2 linked regions of the Homo sapiens genome follow. The protein of the gene in region 1 interacts with the protein of each later gene in a pairwise test. Each region holds a gene or a part of one and is shown on either strand. Other genes may lie near its edges.

The links.
Region 2: the proteins of TNKS1BP1 (region 1) and CNOT6L interact in binary tests that used the Homo sapiens proteins (3 or more experiments, as listed by UniProt).

What each region holds. Positions count from the first base shown.
Region 1 is NC_000011.10:57,314,184-57,321,952, forward strand, and holds part of TNKS1BP1 (182 kDa tankyrase-1-binding protein), read right to left. Parts: intron 7,768-7,769; 5' UTR 7,703-7,767; coding exon 7,609-7,702; intron 6,530-7,608; coding exon 5,896-6,529; intron 3,705-5,895; coding exon 3,635-3,704; intron 1-3,634.
Region 2 is NC_000004.12:77,737,959-77,747,583, forward strand, and holds part of CNOT6L (CCR4-NOT transcription complex subunit 6-like), read right to left. Parts: intron 6,918-9,625; coding exon 6,760-6,917; intron 4,362-6,759; coding exon of another isoform or gene 4,338-4,361; coding exon 4,183-4,337; intron 2,246-4,182; coding exon of another isoform or gene 2,150-2,245; intron 1-2,149. UniProt on the Homo sapiens protein: Has 3'-5' poly(A) exoribonuclease activity for synthetic poly(A) RNA substrate.

The sequences.
Region 1 (7,769 bases):
CATGTGAGGATCTCCTCAGAGGCCACAGTTCGGGGTCCATAACACCTGCTTTATAAAGGGAAAAGGAACATTGTGAATCTGGCTCTTGAAGCACCTCAGCATGTGGGAGTCGTGAGGGGAGAGAGGGTTTCGCGTCCAAGCAGGATTCGAGGTGCAGTGCAGCTACAGAGCAGCTCGGGGGAGTGGCTACAGCGTGCAGGGGGTGCCCCTCATGGCACAGAAGGTGCCAAGGAAGCAGGAAGGCTATGGGACCCAGGCAAAAGGCACTGGGGGGTGTGACAGCGCCTGGCTTGAGCCGTCCCAGCACTGCCTCTTACCAGCATGTGCCCTCCCTCACATATGGCAGACACTTGGTCTCTCTGAGCCTCAGCTTCCCCATCTGTACATTAGGGCTGGTGGCAACAATGCTCATCTCCCAGTTAGGTGAGGGTGAAGGGAAATGTGTGCACTGGCCCCTCGGCATAGGACTCATGGGATGATGGCGGCAGAGAGTGGGGAGGACGTGGAGAGAAGAGGGGGACAAACAAGGCACCAAGCACCTGGCACTCCACCTGTCCCCAGACAATGAAGTGACTCTGGCTCCATCTGACCTTTGCCCTCTGCAGAGGTCACACTTCCCTGGCCGCCCTCTCCCATGTCGTTAATTCTCCCACATCATCACCTACTAGGCCTGGGCAAAATAAAGGGTCCTGCTTGCTTCTCAAGGTCCCTTCTGTTCCCTCCATGCTCACTCCCCTCTGCAACGTTCTAATGTCAAAGCTCGTGCCCTTAAACTACAGCACCCACAATTCTTTCTTGTTATTGACCCTTACGCACCCATCATTCCTTGAAAACCATAACCGCTGCATCACTGCAACCCTCTCCATCATTGTTGTGATAGCTTACAGTCATCTCCATAGCCAGATGCGACCCTTCCAGCCTCTGGTTCGTTGACCTCCTCTTCCTCAGTGACTGTGCGACCCATCCTCTCAAGGTCACACCCTAGACCTCATCCTTACCAGTGGCTGCAACCTCTGCATCATCTCAATCCCAAGTATCCCACTTGCCCACCCCCACCGCCTATCTGACCGGCTCACTCTATTTCCCCAACGCCCTTATTTTCAGCCCCTCTCATAGCACAGCCCCTTAACCCTAATTCTTTCTCATTGTCCCCCACTCCCCTCATACCCTCACCTCTCTTCTTATCACCATTAACGTCACTTTTTACTCAACACTCAACTCCCTCATCTGCTTCATCATACTGTTTAACCTGTTTAAATACAGCTCTCCAATACAGCTGGGCCAATCCTAGCCCAGCACCTGAGTAGCTGCATGTGGCTGGATAAAAACACACAATCGTGACAGCTGGTCTCACTCCAGATTCACTGCTGACCTCAAGCCGGCCCTAGAGCTGCCCAGAATCCCACGGCACTCCCCCTGCCATTCACTCCATGACTCTCCCAGGCAATGTTTTAGCATCTTCTCCCGTCAGACCTCCACACCTCCCCCAATCCTCTCTCAGCTGATGGCCTTGCTTCCTGTTCCCTGAGAACACAGAGGCCACCAGCAGAGAACCCCCGACAACCCCCCCACCGCCACACACACACACACCACCTACTTCCTGCATGGGAGCCCAAGCACTCTGCCTCCCCTTCTGCTATCAGGCACTGTCCTCGCTTGGGGCTGAGGTCAATCCCTCCTCTCTCTCCTGCATCGATTTTTTTTTCCCTCTCTACTGGATCATTTCCATCAGCACACAAACTGCTCTAATTTCTTCTGTCTTGAAAAGCCAAAAAAGCAAACCAAAAAACCACTCTTGACCCCACATCACTCACTAGCTACCATCCATTTTCTTGAAAGCCCTGTCTATATTCACTATTAATATCCACAGTTCTTCTTGTCCCCTTCTCTCTTGAAACCACTCCAAACAGGCTTTCTCCTTTACCTTGCCACCTAACTACTCTCGTCAAGGTCACGGATGACCTCCCTGGAGCTGAATCCAATTCTCTGTGCTCATCTTACTTGACCTGTCAGTGGCATCTGACAGCTGATGGCGCCCTCCCCCAGTCCTGGAGGCTGTCTCCACTTGGTGGACTCTCTCACTGTCCTCCCAGTCTCCTTGGCTGTGCCTCTGGGCCCTCCCCTCCTGCACCATCCCCACTCTCAGTAATCTCAGCCAGTCTTCACAAGCATTCCTACTCTGACAATTCCCAAGTGTTCCTTTCAAATTTGCTCACTTCCCTTGAAGGCCAGACTCGACTACCCAACCATCCGCTTGACGTTTCCACATGGATGTCTGAAAACCATCTCAAATTCAACAAATCCACAAAGCAAACTCCTCCCATCTCCCCCGATCCTGCTTCACCCTTAGAAGTCCCCGTCTCGGCAACCATAAACTCATCCTTCCGGTTGCTCAGGCCAAAAGCCGTGGGGTCACCCTTGATTCTGTGCTCTCTATCTATCTGAAAGTCCTTTCCACCATGCCTTCAAATTCTATCCAGAACCAACCACTTCTCCCCATCTCCACCGTAGGCTACCTCCAGGGTCCAAGCCGTCATCATCTCTCACTTGGACTATTCCAACAGCCCCCTGACTGGTCCATGCTGCTGATCTTACCTCCCTGCAACTGATTCTTAATCCAGTGGGCCAGGTGACTCTTCACAACTAAGACAGCAGCATCCCATGCCTCTCCTGCAAACCCTTCAAATGGCCTGTTGCTCTCACTGAAGCCAAAGTCTTTCTAGAGGCCTTCGAGACTTGACACAATCCAACCCCCCAACCCGTTGGTCCTCACTACCACCTAACTCCTCTCTCACTGCCAGGCAGACATCCTGGCCTCCTTGCCAGGAAAGCACCAATGCCTTTGTACTTGCTGTGCCCTCTACCAAGAATGCTGCTCTCCAGACATGCACACAGCTCAGCCTCTGCCCTTCACAGTGACACCTTCCCTGACCACACTCGTCCCTGCACTCTCTACTCTACCTTCACAGCTATCTCCAACATCCAGCTCCTAACAGGCGCTCAGTCACTGCTTGCTGGATGGACAAATGAATCAAGTCAGATCTCCAGCTAGCAAGGGCTGTATGAGCAAAAAGGGCCATCCTGTACCTTGTTTACTCAAGAAAGCAGGCTGACCATCTTCAAGAACGGGAGTATGATGGGAAAATCTCAGCAAAAGGACTCACCCCTCTTCTGAACTCAGAAAAGGCAGCCCAGCCAGGGAAAGCATGGGAGGCAGACACAGTAGCTGCTGCCTCAGCCTAAGTTACTTACCCTTTGTGAGTACAGGTGCTCTCATCTCTCACATGGGACTAACCAGGTCTACTAGCCAGAGTTATCACAAGGATTGAGTTGGTTAACGTTCCCAGGACAGGCCCAGCACATAGTAGGGACTTAATCAATGGCAGTTGTTGTGGATACTATCATTACTGTTTATGATGAATGGCCTCATGGCCTTAACCACACCTAGCCACTTTGGTGATCAAGAGCACTGGCCCAGGAGTCGAAAAATCCCAGGGCCAGCCCTCCAGTGAGTCACTCTCCCCATGGGCCTCAGTTTCCCCATCTGAACTACAAGGAGTAGAAAAGATGATCTCATATGACCCTTCCAGCTCTAAAATACGTGATTCTGATTCATAACTGGAGGATAACTCACATCAGCAGGTAGCTCCGAGCTGGCTGCCTTAGCCAGGTCCCCGTTGAAGGCCAGGTCGGAAGGAAGGCTCCTGTGAGGGACGAGGACAGGAAATGGAAGCACGGAATGTTAGAGTCTGTCACAGAATGGAAAATGTGGGAGAGTCTCCCAGTGCAACTTTAACAGCACCCAAAGGTTAAACCCTCCTAGCCATTTACTCTTGAGCCCTGCCTGCAACTATTAGGGACACAGAATCTGTCCATTTTCCATTCGGCAAGTGCCCCAGAAAACAGTGCTTATTCCCTACCTGAGCATGAAGGGTTAAATTCCCCAGCTACTTTAGGAAAAGCATCCTGGATGCCCAGACCTCTCAACAGCTCCTAAAAAGATAACTCCTCTTTCCTTTAACCCATAAGGAGTTAAAGTTCTCCTCTAGCCAGGAAGAGTGCAGCTGGTCCTGCTGCCCTGCCAATACTTCTTGAAGAATTGCAGTGGGGGAGGGGAAGAGGAAAGAGTGATTTTCCAGGGTTGAAGTTGTTCTTAAGCCCTACTTGGAGTGAGGGAGAGAAGGAAGATGGCGGGTGGAACCCAGCCTGGGCAAGAGTGTGACCTCACAGCACCCTGGTCTGGGACAGGCAAAGGACTAGCTCTGGGGCCAAGGCTCCAGACACTTTCAGGTGAGAGAAGGGCAAGGCCAGAGGGCAGGGCAGGGCAGGGACCCTCAGCTTCCCGCTTAGCCCAGACCACACCAGCTCTTGCCTTCATAGCAGTAGGAAGAGAAAGGGAGCCTCTGAGCCCAGCAGAGCTGTTAAAGGCCCAAGGAGCCAGCCATACCTCAAGCTGGCTCTCCCAGCACTAAGGACAGCCTCTGTGCAGCTGATGGCTCCTGAGATGCCTCAGCCTCTTCCTCCAAAGTCCCGTGCCCAGCACCCCAAGAAGCACCTCCTGGCCAGCCTTGCTTTACACTAGTGGCAACTCTGGAGAAGCGTATCATATGCAAATATCTCCAACCAGCCAAAATCTCTGTGCAGACACTAGCTGGCCTGGCATCAAGATGTGTTCCTCTCGCAGGGCGCAGTGGCTCACGCCTGTAATCCCAGCACTTTGGGAGGCCGAGGCAGGCAGATCACGAGGTCAGGAGATCGAGACCATCCTGGCTAACACAGTGAAACCCCATCTCTACTAAAAATACAAAAAAATTATCCGGGTGTGGTGGCAGGCGCCTGTAGTCCCAGCTACTCGGGAGGCTGAGACAGGAGAATGGCGTGAACCCAGGAGGTGGAGCTTGCAGTGAGCCGAGATTGCGCCACTGCACTCCAGCCTGGATGACAGAGCGAGACTCCGTCTCAAAAAAAAAAAAAAAAAAAAAGATGTGTTCCTCTCTTACCTCTCCCATCAGATTCCACCTCACAGGCAGAGACTGTGCCCTACTCATCCTGACACACGCAGCCCCACCCCAGGACTGGCACACTGCTCTGACCACTGTAAGAGCTGGCACTTAAGAGCAGAGGATTTGGAATCAAACAAACATCTGTCTCTGCCTCTTAACTTGCCGAGACTATGGAGTCATTTTTGAGCCTCAGTTTCCTCATCTCTACAATGGATCTAATACTCCCTTGAACAAACAGGATGCCAACGAGGCAAAGTTTGGTGCCCAGCTCTCAGTATATAGAAACTAAACTTCTTGGCCGGGCGTGGTGGCTCATGCCTGTAATCTCAGCACTTTGGGAGGCCGAAGCAGGCAGATCACCTGAGGTCAGGAGTTCAAGACCAGCCTGGCCAACAGGGTGAAACCCCAACTCTACTAAAAATACAAAAAAATTAGCTGGGCGTGGTGGCCCACGCCTGTAATCCCAGCTACTCAGGAGGCTGAGGAAGGAGAATCACTTGAACCTGGGAGGCAGAGGTTGCAGTGAGCCGAGATCGCACCACTGCACTCCAGCCTGGGTGACAAGAGCAAAACACCATCTCAAAAAAAAAAAAAAAAAAAGTCTATTGTCTATTAAACTTCTATACTGTACATTTGAACTCTCTAACATAAACCTGCATCAACTCTGTAAAGAAAACTACAACTTTAAAAGCATACAGTAATGATAACACCATCTGCTGGGGAATGATTTGTGACCTAGATCGGGATCTGCCTGTACTCACAGCACACAACCAACCTACAGGTAAAAGTCACAACCCTATATGGGGCCATGCACTTGGTCCCCAGCCCCCACCCAATCCCACCCCACCTGACCTCCAGGCTGCCACAAAATATACAACCTCCCACCCTTCACCTCTCCTCAGGGGTCTTGCTGTGCTCTTCCCGGCACTCTGCTGGAGACTTTACTGGCCCCTCCTGGGACCATCCCCTGAAGAGGGTGCTGCCATCCTCATCCCTGGGAGCAGTGGTCGTGCCATAGGTCCTGGGGCCATATCGCGAGCTGCCATCGTGGTTAAAGGTGAGGCGGGAACCCCACAGGCGGTCGGGGCTGGCAAGGACCTCCTTCCGAGGCTGCTCCATCTTGGCCAGGATCTCTTCCACCGTGGTGGCCGCGAAGCGCTCTGAGGCTGGGCGGAAAGGGGCAGGGGCCTTCCGTACACCCCCTGGGGCTGCACATCGAGCTGGGGGTGTCAAAGGGGGTGGCTCCTCTTTCCCAGCCTCCTCTTTCCCAGTCTCTTGGGTGGCTTCTCCTCCAGTGGAGGCCTCAACCGCAGGCCTTGGTGCAAAGGGAAGGGGGCGCTTGCTGCCACCATAGGGCTGGGGTCCTGCCAGCATGTTCATCTTCCTGGCAGAAGGCAACTCAGCCAGGGGACCCCGGGGAGGCCGAGGCCCAACAGGCACCAGCAGGCTGGGTTTGGCAGGCAGGGCTGGCTTGGCAGGCAGGGCCCGGGGTTTGGGCTTGACAGGGGGTTTGGCCCGAGTGTCACCTACCAAAAGGAAAGGGTTGGTGGGGGAGCTGTCAGAAGAACCAGGAAGCAGAACTTCTTTGTTTCCTGTTCCACCTCATCTCCCACCCTCCGATTTAAGAATATTCACATCTTTCTAGGCACAAGTCATATGCCACCTCTTCCATGAAGCCTTCCTTGATTTTCTACACACATCCCCAAAGCATCTTCTCCCTTCTTCAAACTCCCAAAATGTTTTAGCCAATTCCCCTTTTAAGCTGAAGCTATTTAAGGACCCACCTGGCACCTTACTTCTTCCTGTACTGTATTTTGCCCCTAGCATAAGTTATAATTAAACAAAAGAATGAATGAACAAATGAGCCAATAAACAAATGCCTGCCTGTCCCTATCAAGCAGTCAGCCCCCCCATATTCCCAATCTAGTTTTTTCACCTTATGTGACACTCTTCTCTATCATCCATAGTAAACTTTCAATCTCAGCTGAGCTTCTCTATCCTGCCTCCAGGCTGCCTCCTCCCCCACCCACAGCACACTCCCAGGCCACCTCCCCACTGTCATCTGGTGTGTGACTGGGAATGCAAACTTACTATTGACCCAAGTCAAACAAAAGTAAATCTGCTATGGGAAGAAAAAAAAAAACAGGACCAGAAATCTACCTTCTATATAAAGCTAAATGACCTTGGAAGTACCCTCGTCCACAGTCCTCCTGATGGAATCCCGTACCTCCTACACATTTGGCTAAATAGAAGAAAAGAGTCTACACAAGGAGCCAGGAGGTCTGGGTTCAAACTCCCACTTGTACACTCCATTTTTCCCTGTGGGCCTCAGTTTTCCCCTCTGCAAAGCATGCAGCTTGATCCATATCATCTCAAAGGTCCCTGTCTGCTCTTACACCTGTTGGAGATTTATGATCCCAAACAGTTCTGAAGAGTCTCAAGAGAAGCTGAGAACCTTTCAAACTCATCCTGTACTGCCTTGGTACTCCTTCCCTATCTCAACAGAATCATCACTCAACCACCCCCCAAGACAGAAAGAGGGGGCAGCCTCTGTCCTTCCCACCCCCCTCCCAGCCACCTGGCTCCACCCTGCACCCATTGGTACCTGGCTCAGAGCCAGTAGGCACCAGCTCCTCCTCCATCTCCCGGGGCAGTGGGGAAGCCATGGCTGAGCTTTCCCTGAGAGTAGACACTTTCATCACATGCGGCAGACCCTCCTTGAGAGCGGGGAGGCAGAGAGGTATGAGCTGGGGTGGCTGCAGACCT
Region 2 (9,625 bases), on another chromosome or scaffold:
TAATAACTGAGAGACCAGTGAGATGGGAGTATCACAACAGTAATGATACTGTACCATTTTGGAATGATACTATGACCTCTGAAAACCCTCCTTCCAAGCACAAAACTACCTGTGATAATAGAAGAAAAAAAAGCAAGGACTTGGCCTTACCTGGTACCTCTGAGAATGGAAGCAGGTTAGGAAGTACAGCAAGAACTAAGTGCCATGACAACCTAAGTTCCCAATCCTATGATAAGAGATTGCCTCTTCACAGTGCAATGATCACACTGTTCTAAATTGCTGTTTTCATCTTTCCCTTTCTCATTGACTTGAAATAAAGCATGATAAGGAGGTCAGAACTGCTAACCTCAGGAACAGCAAGTCTAGCATATAGGTCTGCTTTCATCTTCATATTTTCCCCCACTATTAAGTTGTGTATCTGGCTCCAAGACCCAATTCTACTTAATGGTTAAGTCTATAGGACAAAACATGGCAAAAAGAAATTTAAATTATGAGTCTAAAGCATGTATCTACGGCCAGGCGCGGTTGCTCACGCCTGTAATCCCAGCATTTTGGGCGGCCAAGGAGGGCAGATCACCTGAGGTCGGGAGTTTGAGACCAGCCTGACCAACATGGAGAAACCCTGTCTCTACTAAAAACACAAAATTAGTCAGGCATGGTGGCGCATGCCTGTAATCCCAGCTACTCAGGAGGCTAAGGCAGGAGAATTGCTTGAACCTGGGAGGCGGAGGTTGCAGTGGGCCAAGATCACGCCACTGCACTCCAGCCTGGGCAACAAGAGTGAAACTCCGTCTCAAAAAAAAAAAAAAAAAATGTATTTACAACTCAGTTTCTACATATACATTATATACATATAAGAAACATATGCATATGTATGAATGTATTTTATAAAATGCTTTGGAACGTAAATAATACTTGTTAAAAGACAAAGCAAAAGCTGAGATCTGGTATTTTATCACTCAAAGTTCTATTTTCTAGTATCTCTATGCATCTAACTCCCAAAAAATGATGTTCATAATGATGACCAAACAGGTGCTGCCAAATCCTGAAGTAGATTCTGAATCCCCCAAAACTAAACTAGAATAATGTGATTTAAAGAACAGTGTATTATATTCTAATTATCTGAATATTGGTAACTTGTGTCCTAGCCTTTACTAAACAATACTCTATCCTTTCATCATGATGGATTAGAGATTTTTATTATAGTATTTTGCTATAAATGGCAATTATGATAGTTTCCATTTATTGTTGCGTATTCTGTACCAGTTTTTCATGTATGATTAAACAGTCATCAGTGAAGATGAGGAATTATCAGATACTCTGATTACAGAAGAAAGAGACTGAGAGTAAGTACAGTGTTGACTACTCTTCCACAGTTATCTTTGTTAGTTTTGTAACCTCTACAAAAATGATCTTACAAGATAAGAATATACAAATGAAGAAACAGGTCCAGAAATGCTAAGTCTTTCAACATTATATAGCTAAATAAATAGAAGAAGCACCTGGCTTCAAAACTCACAGTCTTTTTTTGCCCTATATTTCCAGTCTGAAGAAAGAATAAAGGCAGGGTATAATACTTTAAATTCCAAATAGTTGGCACTGAATAGTCAGCTAAGACATGGATAAATATCTGGTACTGGGACAGAAGGTGGTTTTGTTCTACCTATAGGAGGTATATAGTCCTGTCATTCCAGGAAAGAAGTTGAAAAGAGGTACAATATACTGATGTATCACATTCAATCTGTTGCCAGATCCATGTTACTATTCAGGAAAAAAGAGTTGAGGAAGAAAAGAAAAACAGGTGACACATCTAAGTACTTCCTATGTGCTCATTACTTAACTAGTTCACAGCATTTTTAATAATTCAAGAATCAATTTGCAAATACCCAGATAACAGTTCTAACTGTTATTTCAAAGCCTTAACTACTTCTAGTAAATTGTTAAGGAATTTTAGATTTTTCCTCTCAAAACTGTGAGAGTAATAATAAAAATCTTCCATATTATCTTGAAAGAAACTATAGCAAATAGAAAAAGAGCCTGATGTTAGATGTCTCAAGTTTACTGGTGCATTTTTTTTTTAAGCTATGGTGTTTCAAGGGGATTTGTGTATGAACATAGGTAACAAATATCGTCAGGCACGGTGGCTTACGTCTGTAATCCCAGCACTGTGGGAGGCTGAGGCGGGTGGATTGCTTGGACCCAGGAGTTCAAAACCAGCCTAGGGCAACACAGCAAGACCCCATCTCTACAAAAAATACAAAAATTAGTTAGGTGTGGTGGCATGCACGTGTAGTCTCAGCTACTCAGGGTGCTGAGGTGACAGAATCACCTGAGCCTGGGGAGGTTGAGGCTGCAGTGAGCCATGATCGCCACTGCACTCCAGCCTGGGTGACAGAGTAAGACTCTGAGACCCTGTCTAAAAACAAAAACAAATGTCAAATTCAGGGCAATTTTTCTAAATGAGGTAATCTTATAAGAGGTATTAGTGATATCAAAAGCTCAAACAAGAAGGCTAAAGATTCAGTTTATTACAGTAGTTAAAAGCATGGACTATGAAATCAGACTGTGTAACTGGAACTAGTTATTGAACTTGTCTGTACCTTGGTTTCCTCATCTTTAAAAACAAGGAAATAGCTGTATAGCTGCCTGTAAGAGTTGCTTTAAAATTTGAACAAGACAACTAATATAAACAATTCGAAAAGGCTGACAGATGGCAAACACTCTGGAAGTACGGTCATATACCATATAACAAGATTTCAGTCAACAAGGGACTACATGCCGATGGTAGTCCCACAAGACTATAATGGAGCTGAAAAATTCCTATCACCCAGTGATGATGTAGGTGTCTTAACATCACAGCACAATACATTACCTTTTTTACGTCTAGATATGTTTAGACTCAAATGCCATTGTATTACAATTGTCTATTTACTACAGTAACATGCTGTACAGGTTTCTAGCCTGGGAACAACAGGCTATACCTTATAGCCTAGGTGTATAGTGCTGTACCATCTAGGTTTGTGTAAGTGCACTTCATGATGTTCCCACAACAACAAAATCACCTAATGATGCATTTCTCAGAACATATTCCCGTAGTTAAGAGATACGTAGTTTTAATAGAATTATTCTAAAATGCATAAAAAATTACCAAACCATTAGAAGAATTTAGTATATTCTGACCTCAAATACTACAAGGCTTTGTACTAATTATTAACCAAAATAAGAATATCTCTACTACAAATTCATGGAAAAGACAGGAAAGTAGGCATAGATAAATGGGAAGTGGACCAAATATCTTTCAAATTCATTGAATTTGTTTACTTAAAATAGCATGTCATGCTGGTAATATGCTTGGATCAATAAAAACAGATTGGCTTTGGTAAAATAGATGTAAAATGGGGAAATACTGGAAAACAGCTGTAAGCATGTATATGCTTATCCTGTAAGATGATTTCCTAACGTATGAAATCCAAACTATTAACCATGGGATTCAACCTCTATCAGATGTCACGTTTCATTTTCCATTGCCCTGTCTCAGTCAACCCTTTTAACTCTCTACCTCCATATGCTCTGTGCCTGCCTCTCTTATCTACCCAGGCAGACCTCTATCTTATATTACACCATATGATATTGCAATTGTCTTATATGCCTAGTTTTTCCTACTGGATTTGAGCTTTCAGTGAGATTAGGAACTATGTCTTGACTATCTTTGTGTCTGTTGTGTCTAGCACAGGACTTATCACAAAGCAAATGCTCAGTATACATTTAGTGAATAAATGATTTTAAAATGAATGATTCTCAAAAATCAATTATTAAAAAAAAATCACAGAAAAGAAACCCAGATCACTTATGGCCAACCTTAAAAGGTATCACTTTCTTTTTTTACACAAAAACTAATACTTTACTTCATGAAAATATGTTCTGAAATATGAGACCATTCAAGTCTGTATCTCTTAAAATGTTCAGTGTTATTTGGTAATAAAAGCATAAGGAATAATACAATAAATATCCTTATTTCGAATACACAGCCTGAGAAATGAAACATTAACAACAGTTTTAAGTTGCATAATACTTGTTTTCTAGCTTTCTGTTGATTTTATAGGGCAAAACCAAAGACAATTTTAAAGTGTAAGCATTTAAATAAATAAAAGTACACCATTGTGCTTTGTTTCCTTAACTTACTTTTCTGTTTTGAAGAATATTGCACAACCATCTACATGCTTTCTCTCCTGCTCAGACATGATTTTGGCACGTGACTTTGGAGAAAAAAATCCATCATATCCACGCTCCTTCAATGCTGGCAGAAAGAGAGTGAAGTATTGCTCTGTTTCCACTTCCTGAGATGAAAGAAAAGTTATCATCTATATGACAGAGGGAAAATGCTGATTAAGATATAAAAATGTTCAGCATTATGAGTAAGATGTAACTTAGTAAAAATAATTCACATAGCAAATATTATCTTACTATCTTACCTGATTGCTAGCAGCTGCTACTTGACAATGGCAGCTTTTTAAACATGAAAGAACCAGAAAGGTGACATGATTTTCTCATGCTCACACAGATAGTAACAGGAGTAGGACTACATCCCAAGGTCTCTTGATTCCCAATTTACAGTTCACTCCATTATACTTTACTTCCTCAAGACTGGCAACTAAACAAAGCAAGTTGGGTATATGATAGATTCTGTGATAGGGAATAGTAATTTATATATAAAAAGGTAATTTAAAAACTTGCATATCCTTCTGAACTATGGTGGAAAGAAATGATACCCAAGAGTGAGAAACGTAAAATCTATCCACAAAAAATTCTACTTTAAGAAATTTTTAAGTACCTAAATCGCAATCATCCAATGGCCTCTATTAATTTAATAATTATTAGTCTATTTTATTCTTTGACTCATAAAATATTTTAACAGGTCTTTCTAAATGAAATAAATATGAAGATAATTTATGTATGCAGATGTTTCTAACAGCATGAGTTTATGACAGCAAAAACCCATAAACAACTAAATGTGTCCAATGGTATGGGAAAAGCTACATCAATATACGTTCATATAATTAATGAGTTTTGAAGAATTTTAGTAACATGGAAAATCCATTAAGTACAATAAATAAGAATCAAAATGTATCTGTAAATATATTTTACTTAATGTATAGAAGAAAAATACTCCAGAAGTTTTAACACAACTATCTTATGACATGAAATTAGGTATTTCCCTCCATCATGCTTTATATTTTTTCAAAATTTTCAACTTCTCTAGAATGATCTCTTTTTAATACAGTATAGTATTATAGCATTGCTTTTATAATAAGACAATTTTCTTAAATTATGTTCTATCCTTCAAACTGCTATATTTAGGAGGGTGTGAGGCTGTTATCACTACAAATACTAAACCAAGAAGTAGACAAGAAACTACAATAGCCTGATTTTGTTTGCCGCCTCCTCTCCCCAATTCTCTGTTAGTCTCAGTATTTAGAAGAAATTTTATTTTAATTTTAAAAGATTTTTACTTTTTTCCCAAGCAACCTAAAAATAAATTATCAAGCTACTCTGTTACATAAAAAAATTTTTAATAATTTTTCCTCTCAGGCTATGATGAAAAGAATGTGTGAAATTGTAACACACAACTTTTTTTTTTTTTTTTTTTTTTTTTTTTTTTTTGAGACAGAATCTCGCTCTGCCATCCAGGCTGGAGTGCAGTGGTGCAATCTCTGATCACTGCAACCTCTGCTTCCTGGGTTCAAGCAATTCTCATGCCTCAGGCTCCCAAGTAGTTGGGATGACAGGTGCACGCCACCTTGCCTGGCTAATTTTTGCATTTTTAGTAGATATGGGGTTTCACCACGCTGGCCAGGCTGGTCTCAAACTCTTGACCCCAAGGGATCCACCCGCCTCGGCCTCCCAGAGTACTGGGACTATAGGCGTGAGCCACCATGCCCGGCCTGTAACACACAACATTTTTAAACACCTTTAAGAAATAGTAAGTTTCTGAGTTGATGAATATGTTAATTAGCCTCATTTGATCATTTAAAAAAATATATATGTATCAAAACATCACAATGTACCCCATAAACATATACAATTATTTGTCAATTAAAAATTTTTAAACCTTTAAGCACTTAATATGTTTTGAAAGTTGCTAAGAAAAAAGTTACTAAAAACTATTCAAACATCTTTTTGGCTAATCATTAGCTAAATTTTGAAGCAACAGAACACATTTCATGAAAAGATGCTGCTTCTTCAGTAAAGTTCAATTTATAAAGTGCTATAAAACAGAAGAATCTAAATTTCAGAGATGGTTTATAAAGTAAGGTAAGGCAAATATGCATGATTTATAGTACAATATATTAAAATATGTCTGTTTAAGGAATAACTGTGGGCAAGCTTTTTTTTTTAAAAAAAAACAGACTCCAATACAAGGTAAATTTATATTCCTAAAAGACTGGCAATCTTCTGTGGTTTTCTCTTTCAGCAATACCAATGATCATGAGGTGAATATTAACATGAACGGGTAAGATTATTTCCACTTAAGAAAACAGTAAATAAATATAAGTAGGTGGTTGTATTCAGTCAGCAAAATAGTTTCACTATGGAAATGTCTTAAATGCTTATTTAAATTGTCCATTATTTTTAAGAGGAGAGAAAACAATTCTTTTTGAGCTTTGGCTCTAAACACAGGATCTCTCCCAGTGGTCAGATCTTCTCTTATGTTTAAGTTCACCTTTTAAGTTAAAGACAGTTTAATTTCTATGGTGTTACCTGAAGACTAATGATATCTGCGTCACAGTTAACAATTTCTTCCATAATTCCCTTTTTCCTGTATTCCCAGTTTAATGCCCAGGATGGGCAATAGCCATATAGCTGCCGGGTAGCGTATTTATCACATAACACATTGTAACACATAACCGTGAATGATGCTAAGAAGTGGGAGAAAAAACAACAGACAAACGGGAGAAAATTAGGCAACTTTTTCTAAAGCAATATCATGTGTACACCTGCACAAGCACACACACATACGCCACATATCATCATTGTAAAATGCCTAGGCAAGATAAAGATTGCTAATCTACTAAAACATCATTGGAGTCTATCATACAAAATTTATTTTATTAAGTCTAGAATTAGACTAACAGCTTATATTTGAGAGTTTTAAGGAAATTTATTTTAATAAAAAATTTAAATTTTAAATCTGCTAATTTTTTGCTTATAACTTTGAGAAAAGCTTCTTTAAATGAGTGGAACAAAAGTAAACTGTAGTTGCATTTTAATTAAAGAACTCTAATCTCATTACCTCTTATTAACAAAATATCTAAGTATTTTTTGTGCCTCCTACTGCTATCATTACTTTGAAGCAGAAGAGTATGGACTAACAAAATTTAGTTGTAAGAGAATCGTTTTTGTCAATCAAATGTTCATTTCTGAAATAAAATGCTCATTTTTAAATGTCCTTTAACTATAAAAAGACTGTGAGCAAACTAATAGTAGAAGATGGTTTGCATCCTTGCTACTCAAAACTGTGCTGTGAAGACCAGCAGCATCAGTAATCAATCACCTGGGAATTTAGAAATGCAGAATCTGTGGCCCCATAAACACCTCTTTTGGACAGGATGTGCAATTTAACAAAATCTCCAGGTGATTCATATGCACTTGCATGTTAAAGTCTGAAAAGCCCTGATTTTTATCAGTAATTCTCCATCTTGGCTGCCTAGTAGAATCACTTTGTAGACCTTATAAAGAAAAATGCTGAAGTAAGGGTCTGACTCCAGACTAATTAAGTTGAAATATTAAGAGTCTAGCTATTCGTATTTTTAAAAAGGATCCCAGCATCCCAGGTGATTATAATGAACAGACATGGTTGAGAATCACTTATTTAAATAAGACGTGAGGAATTCAAAGTGAAGTGACACTTGATTGAAGTTGGTTCTGTTTCAGATGATGGAAAAGGTATTAAGAGAAACTCAGTTCAGTCCCCTGGGGGGTCTGACTGGTGACCATTTTGTACACTGGGAGCTAAATTTCAATTTGAGTTGACTTTTGTACTTTCTGAGTATTTATCTTGGAAATGACCCAGCATCATTTCCAAGCCACTACACTGTGAAGTAAGCACCCTGAATTTACCTTACTATGCTTCTCAGTATTTGAAATGTCATTTGGAAGTAAGGCGAAAGAGGCAGACTGCCATTTGCTTCATTCAGTTTTTTCCTAAGACTTTGTAAACTGAGATTTCATTAAAAAGATCAGAGATTGCAATTTTTATAATATAGCCAAAACTCTTTATATCCCTGCCAGTGCCTGAGAATGAACCAGCAATTTTTAAACAGAAGTAAAAACTACCTAAGTGTTATTACCACTCATCTCTTATACTCTGTTTCTATCTGGGACCTTTTTCATTATCTAGGCTTGATTTCCATATAGTTTATCATGTTTTTAAGCAATAAATCACCCTTAGCCACCACAAAGTATTATACACATCCCTCTATGCATCAGAAGTAAAATGCATTTTTAACAGTAACTTTTTTTCAGCACTCAGATCCTACTCAGAGAAGCACCATACCTCACAAGAAAAGTCCACACTAGTTTTTCAATAAAGAAAACCCAAGAACAGATTACTTTGAGAATTCAGCAATTAATGAAAATTTGTTTCTATTGTTCCTTTTCTTAATAGAAATGTAGCTGTGCAATATTAGAAAATCTTTTCTTCAAGATTATGTTCACTCATATTCAAAAGGGATTACTATGAAGAATTAGAAAATGGTGTTTTTAACATCAGAAGGGAATAATTAATTATACACTAGGAAAGGCCAAGTATAAAATAAATCTATCTAGCTTTAAGTTTTGTAGAAAACCTTAGGTACTCCTTTCACTTAAACACCAACATGCAACCTGATAGTAAAAATGTTATTCATAACACTGACACAATGCCTCTTAAAACAAGCTGATATTGCAGCTCTAGAGTGGGTTGGTTTTAAAATTATTACCTCTGAAAGACACAAAAATGTACTGCATATTATAATATTTTGTAGTGTTATTAAAATGCAAATAGAACCATGAAGAGGCTATATATCCCACATTTCCAAATACTAAAAAAAAAAAAGACTTGTTCTGAATCCTCTTAACTTAAAAAAAGCCCAAAACTCACAAACAAAAGGCCTTTATATTGCTCAAAATATATATAAAGTCTAATTGTGATTTACCCTTTAAAAATTAACTATCTCTTTTTTTGAGACAGGGTCTTGCTCTGTCTCCTAGGCTGGAGTGCAATGGCAAAATCTTGGCTCACTGTATGTAAACTCCGCATCCCAGGTTCAAGCGATTCTCGTGCCTCAGCCTCCTAAGTAGCTGGGATTACAGGAGTGCGCTACCACGACCTGGCTAATTTTTGTGTTTTTAGTAGAGATGGGGTTTCACCATGCTGGCCAAGCTAATCTTGAACTCCTGGCCTCAACAGATCTGCCCGCCTTGGCCTCCCAATGTGCTGGGATTACAGGCATGAGCCACAGTGCCCAGCCAAAATCTATTAATGTAGTACTATTCTGTGACTGGTTTAATCTTCATATCCAAACACTTAGAATTTTCATTTAATTTTAAAATGAAATTAGATATCATGAAAATTATTACTCTTGTG